Linked DNA regions of Homo sapiens: region 2 is linked to region 1. Evidence: fine-mapped expression QTL. Tissue or cell type: whole blood. Region 1 holds a variant in brackets; the other region holds the start of a gene. All regions are shown on one strand. Distances are between the middles of the regions.

The links. PIP is the estimated chance that this variant, and not a neighbour inherited with it, causes the effect.
Region 2: it holds the start of CC2D2B, and the variant in region 1 is fine-mapped to the expression of CC2D2B in whole blood (TOPMed, PIP 0.99).

What each region holds. Positions count from the first base shown.
Region 1 is chr10:95,866,509-95,869,272 of GRCh38, forward strand. It overlaps ENTPD1 (ectonucleoside triphosphate diphosphohydrolase 1), which reads left to right. Exons shown (of 10, transcript NM_001776.6): 10 at 1-2,764. The region is part of intron 3 of ENTPD1-AS1 (ENTPD1 antisense RNA 1); the gene reads right to left. Among named protein-coding and RNA genes, the nearest start is that of CC2D2B, 40 kb to the right of the region's middle. The variant A/G (reference allele first, on the strand shown) is at 1,614.
Region 2 is chr10:95,906,775-95,909,538 of GRCh38, forward strand. It overlaps CC2D2B (coiled-coil and C2 domain containing 2B), which reads left to right and starts at 1,201. Exons shown (of 35, transcript NM_001349008.3): 1 at 1,201-1,283. All of the region lies in intron 2 of ENTPD1-AS1 (ENTPD1 antisense RNA 1), which reads right to left. RefSeq lists enhancers at 1,228-1,417, 1,458-1,517.

The DNA of each region.
Region 1 (2,764 bases):
TTCCTTGGCTTTTACTGAAGCCTTTCTTTTGGAGGTATTCAATATCCTTTGCCTCAAGGACTTCGGCAGATACTGTCTCTTTCATGAGTTTTTCCCAGCTACACCTTTCTCCTTTGTACTTTGTGCTTGTATAGGTTTTAAAGACCTGACACCTTTCATAATCTTTGCTTTATAAAAGAACAATATTGACTTTGTCTAGAAGAACTGAGAGTCTTGAGTCCTGTGATAGGAGGCTGAGCTGGCTGAAAGAAGAATCTCAGGAACTGGTTCAGTTGTACTCTTTAAGAACCCCTTTCTCTCTCCTGTTTGCCATCCATTAAGAAAGCCATATGATGCCTTTGGAGAAGGCAGACACACATTCCATTCCCAGCCTGCTCTGTGGGTAGGAGAATTTTCTACAGTAGGCAAATATGTGCTAAAGCCAAAGAGTTTTATAAGGAAATATATGTGCTCATGCAGTCAATACAGTTCTCAATCCCACCCAAAGCAGGTATGTCAATAAATCACATATTCCTAGGTGATACCCAAATGCTACAGAGTGGAACACTCAGACCTGAGATTTGCAAAAAGCAGATGTAAATATATGCATTCAAACATCAGGGCTTACTATGAGGTAGGTGGTATATACATGTCACAAATAAAAATACAGTTACAACTCAGGGTCACAAAAAATGCATCTTCCAATGCATATTTTTATTATGGTAAAATATACATAAATATAATTCACCATTTTAACATTTAATTCATATTAAATACGTACAAATCAGTGACATTTAGTACATTCACAGTGTTGTGCCACCATCACCACTATTTAGTTCCAGAACATTTGCATCATCAATACATTGTCTAGAGACAAGACTATCCTGGGTAGGCAGAAACCATAGATCTTTTGTGTTTACAGCTATGGAAACCAACTGTACCATAAAGATAGTTCACTGAGTTTTAAAGCCAAGCCACATCTTATTTTTCCAAGGTTTAATTTAGTGAGAGGGCAGCATTAGTGTGGAGTGGCATGCTTTTGCCCTATCGTGGAATTTACACATCAGAATGTGCAGGATCCAAGTCTGAAAGTGTTGCCACCCGTCACACAACATGGGCTTTGTTTGCTTATTCCATGAAGCAGCAGCTATAGACCTTACCATGGAAACATGAAGAGACCCTGCACCCCTTTCCTTAAGGATTGCTGCAAGAGTTACCTGTTGAGCAGGATTGACTGGTGATGTTTCATTCTGACCTTGTCCCAAGCTCTCCATCTCTAGATCTGGGGACTGACTGTTGAGCTGATGGGGAAAGAAAAGCTCTCACACAAACCGGAAGCCAAATGTCCCCTATCTCTTGAATGATCAAGTCACTTTTGACAACATCCAGGTGAATATAAAAACTTAATAAAGCTGTGGAAAGGAACTCTTAATCTTCTTTTCTGCTACTTAGGTTAAATTCACTAGATCTTGATTAGGAATCAAAATTCGAATTGGGACATGTTCAAATTCTTTCTTGTGGTAGTTGCCTATACTGTCATCGCTGCTGTTGGTTGAGCATTTGTGGTGTACCACGCTGTGTGCTCAAGGGTATTACATTCATCTTCTCATTTAATCCTCACAACAATCTGAAGA[A/G]GGTAGGTATTACAATTCCCACTTCATAGAAACAGAAACTGAGGTTCAGAGAGGTTAAGTCATTTGCCCAAATGGCTGAGCCAAAGCCTACCATGTACCTAACCTTTATTTTCTTTCCCGAACATACCAGGCTGTCTCCTCATAACTTCCAAGCATGCACTTAAAACTCCACATGAATACAAGGTTCATGGGACTTGGTATTCATAGAAAGGGAGGCAGAAAGCTGGTCTGTTCCTGATAGGCTTGTAATTTAATATCATTCTGTTCATGTGCTTTGGATGGAAGCACATCTGGCATATGATGCTAATCAGTGGTTCCCATACCCCTGGCTTCCTAATTTTAATGTTTGCTCACAGCATAGTAGATTGACATCAAATAGTGGCCGATGATGATGAAAATAAAGGTCAAATAAGTTGAGCCAATAACAGCCGCTTTTTTCCTTCTGTCTGCGTATACAAAGCACTGTCATGCACACAATCTATTCTGACCCTCACAACAACCCATAAGGGTGTAAATAGTATTTCCATTTTACAAATGAGGATCACACAAACTACTACATGGCAGAGCAGATACTCCAACTCATGTCTTCTGGTTGAAGCCTATTGCTTTTTCTTTTCTAAACACTTTCCCTCAGCAAGTTGGAATTAGACTTCACAAGTCTCCTTCAGAGAACACAAATCTTTTCTTATTCCATTCCTGTTTGGTTGCCTACGTCCAATCTCCCCCTCCCCAGAGATGCCAAAAAAAAAATCCTTTAAGGTATTTGGGAGCCAAACTCAACTTGTTAAAATCTCAAATTATGGAGACAATCAGCAGACACAACCTAACCCCAATTATTTTGGCAGGAAGGTTGGTTTAGAGGCAGATCCAGCAATCTGCTTTGGGCCACTCTGGGTGGGGTAGGTGAAATAAGATTGGTCACTGTTAACTAATTTTAATATTGGATTGGCCATTGGTTATCACTGATTACCATTCTCCCCTGGATTTTCACCCAGGACTCAAAACTTGGTTCTGCTAACCCTGTTCCTTTATGAGGAACCTTTTAAAGATTCCTTTATAAGGTGGGAGTTTTTTTTCTATGAACCTATAGGGGAGAAAAAAGATCAGCAGAAGTCATTACTTTTTTTTTTTTTTTTTTTTTTTTTTGAGAG
Region 2 (2,764 bases), 40 kb after region 1:
TTGTTACCAAGTATGACAGAGACTATAGACAGGGTGGGATTTACGGTCTCAAATGAAACTGTGCCAAGCTGTCAGAGACACTGGGACTCTATTTTGCTTACTAAGGTTAAACACTAGTATTACTTTTGGTCACCATACTATTAAAAAATAAAGACAATCCTACGAAACTTAGGCAATTAATATCAGAATAAAGAGGTCAATAATGTTTATTCTCTATTAACATGTACATTTAGAAAATAAAAGCAAAGCTTAAAAATGCATGGAAGTCTTACACAAGACGACTGTTGGGGCATAATGCCTGACACAGAACGCAGTTAAACACTGTGGAAAGCCTGAATGAGTGAAAGCATACAAACCACCACCGTGCGGCTCTCTACACTAGCAAGTTTCCGAAGTTCGCCCCAGCCGGTTTCCCTGAACAAGTTCCCAACCGCATCACGTTTAGTTTATCTCGTTATTTTAACTCGGAGCGAGGCAATGGGAAAAAGAAAAACAATGAGAGCCGTACTCTGTTTATTAAGCGATGAATGACGACACATGGGTGAGCGTGTCTGGCATGCCCTATTTAAGACTTTAAACATAGTACATTAGTACGCTAACAGCAAGCTCTGGAAATAAAAGGAACCGCTTGCATATTTAGGGGGCTCTTTTGTAAGCCACAAAGGAAATCACCTGAAGTCAAAGCTCCCCTCTTTTCCTAGCAAGGCAGGGACGACGGCAAAGAGAAAGTAGGTCCCGGGGCGCTGCAACCCGTGCAACTTGCCGGCTGGCGTCCCCCGGCCTCGCGCCTCCACGCCCTGCGCGGGCGACCGCTCTTGCCACAACGGCGCCCCGCAGCGTCCTCCCCGGGGACGCCCGCTCAGCCGGGAGCTCGCGGCCGGTACTCACCCGCTGGGTATACTCTTCTTCTTCACCAGGACGAGAGGGATGAGAGACCCACGCCCCAGGCAACCCCGCTCTCAGGCCTCCTCCAGAACAGACCCCAGGGTACGCTACAACTCACACGCTCACGGGCAGAGGCGAGGGGCGGGGGTGATAGACCCCGGCGGCGAACAGACTTGGCGCACCGAAGATTCCCAAAGGCGCGTGCTCCGCTCCCTCTGGGTCCTGGCAGGCCAGGGGCGGCAGCGCGCATGCTCCTGGGTCGCCGCTACTTGCAGCCCGCGGGCGCCGTAGGGCTGGCGCAGGGTGCGGTGGGGCGGTTGGTGATCATCCTAGCCTGCGGTAGATGGTGCGCCCTGCCTTCCCTGCCCAGACGTAAGAAAAGTGCACTGTCCGTCCAGGTGAATGTCGGGCTGCTGGTGAAGGTTTCTCTGATTCTTCCCTGTCAGACATTCCCGCACTTTTGTGGAGCTCTGCTGCATGGGCAGAACTAGCTGGGCTGGGATAACCGGAGCCGGGGCCGCGCAGGCCGCTGGGACTTGTAGTTCGGGGGCCTGGCCGACCGGTTTGTTAGCCAATTTGGGAATGAGTAGAATTGAAAATCACTCGAGAGCAGTGTTTGATTTGCAAGAAATACGGGTCGGCATATTATTAATTCAGTGCCTACTGTGTGTGCTGAACACCTTGCCTTAGTCCTGATCTTCACATTAGGATAAGCAGGAAGATGAACTTGGAAGGTAGAATGTAATGAACAAAAATTCGCATTATGAACTACAAATGCTGTTGGAGATCAAGAGACAGAGTTAGAAAAAACTTCCTGAAAGACGTGGAGTTTGAATCAGCCTTAGAAACACGGAATGCTATCCATTTGCGGGGAAGTTGTAAAAATTAAAGGTTGGAGATGCCAGGGAGAATAAACAAGAACTCCATCCAGCTATAGTTGAGGGGTTATGTTGGAGAGTGGTCAATGTTGGAGAGTGGTCACTGCGGCTTAGATGGGGAAGTGATGTGAGAGTTTTTTGGCTTCACTTTCAGAAAGGGCCTCCTGGTTGACTTTCTCTCTAATTGAGGCTATAAGTATAGACACAGAGATACATCTTCAGGTTTGAATAAAAAACATTACAGTACTTGTTTAGAGCTTCTGGGCCTCCTGGCCAGTGGTTGCTCTAAGAATTAATACATTTTTATAAATCTTGTAATTCACCTTTGAGTAGCAAAACTACGTTGCATGGTGTGTGTTAGATGTAAATTTTCAAAATATAATATGATAGTTTTTGTAACCTGTTTCCACATTAGTTTTCATGTACCAGAAGTCCCAAGATAGAGAAGTGGGCCCAAATCTTTCTTGATCTACAGGAGCAGGACATGATGACTTGGGAACTGGTCCTCAGAGCAGTGGGTGATTTAGTTTTGTTGCCTTTCGAAGACTTAAATAAATTCACAGATCAGAAAATCTTTTGTCACGCCGTTTGTTCCTAAGTTTTGATTTTGGAAAACAAGATAACAGTTAAGTTAATTTTTAAACTTGCCAGTTAATGCAATACATGGAAGTCATAATGTTTTTTGTAGAACACTGTGAAATACTGCTATATTCCTCTTAACTAAGTAAAGAATTGTTAAGTTAAATTCCACTTCTTCCATATCCTAATAACAATAAAGGGTAGCTGGTGCTATATATTTAATAGATTATTTTTACAAAATGCTATTGTTGCCTTAATTACATCATAACTGTGAATGAGACCTTAATTCTGGACATAGCATCCTAATTCAAATTAAGTCTGGAAGGCATCATTTAGGAAACATTGCTATAAGAGAGTTCAGAAAGGTGTCATCATACTATGTGACAATAGATGAACTGAGATAAAGATAAAATTGGATTTTG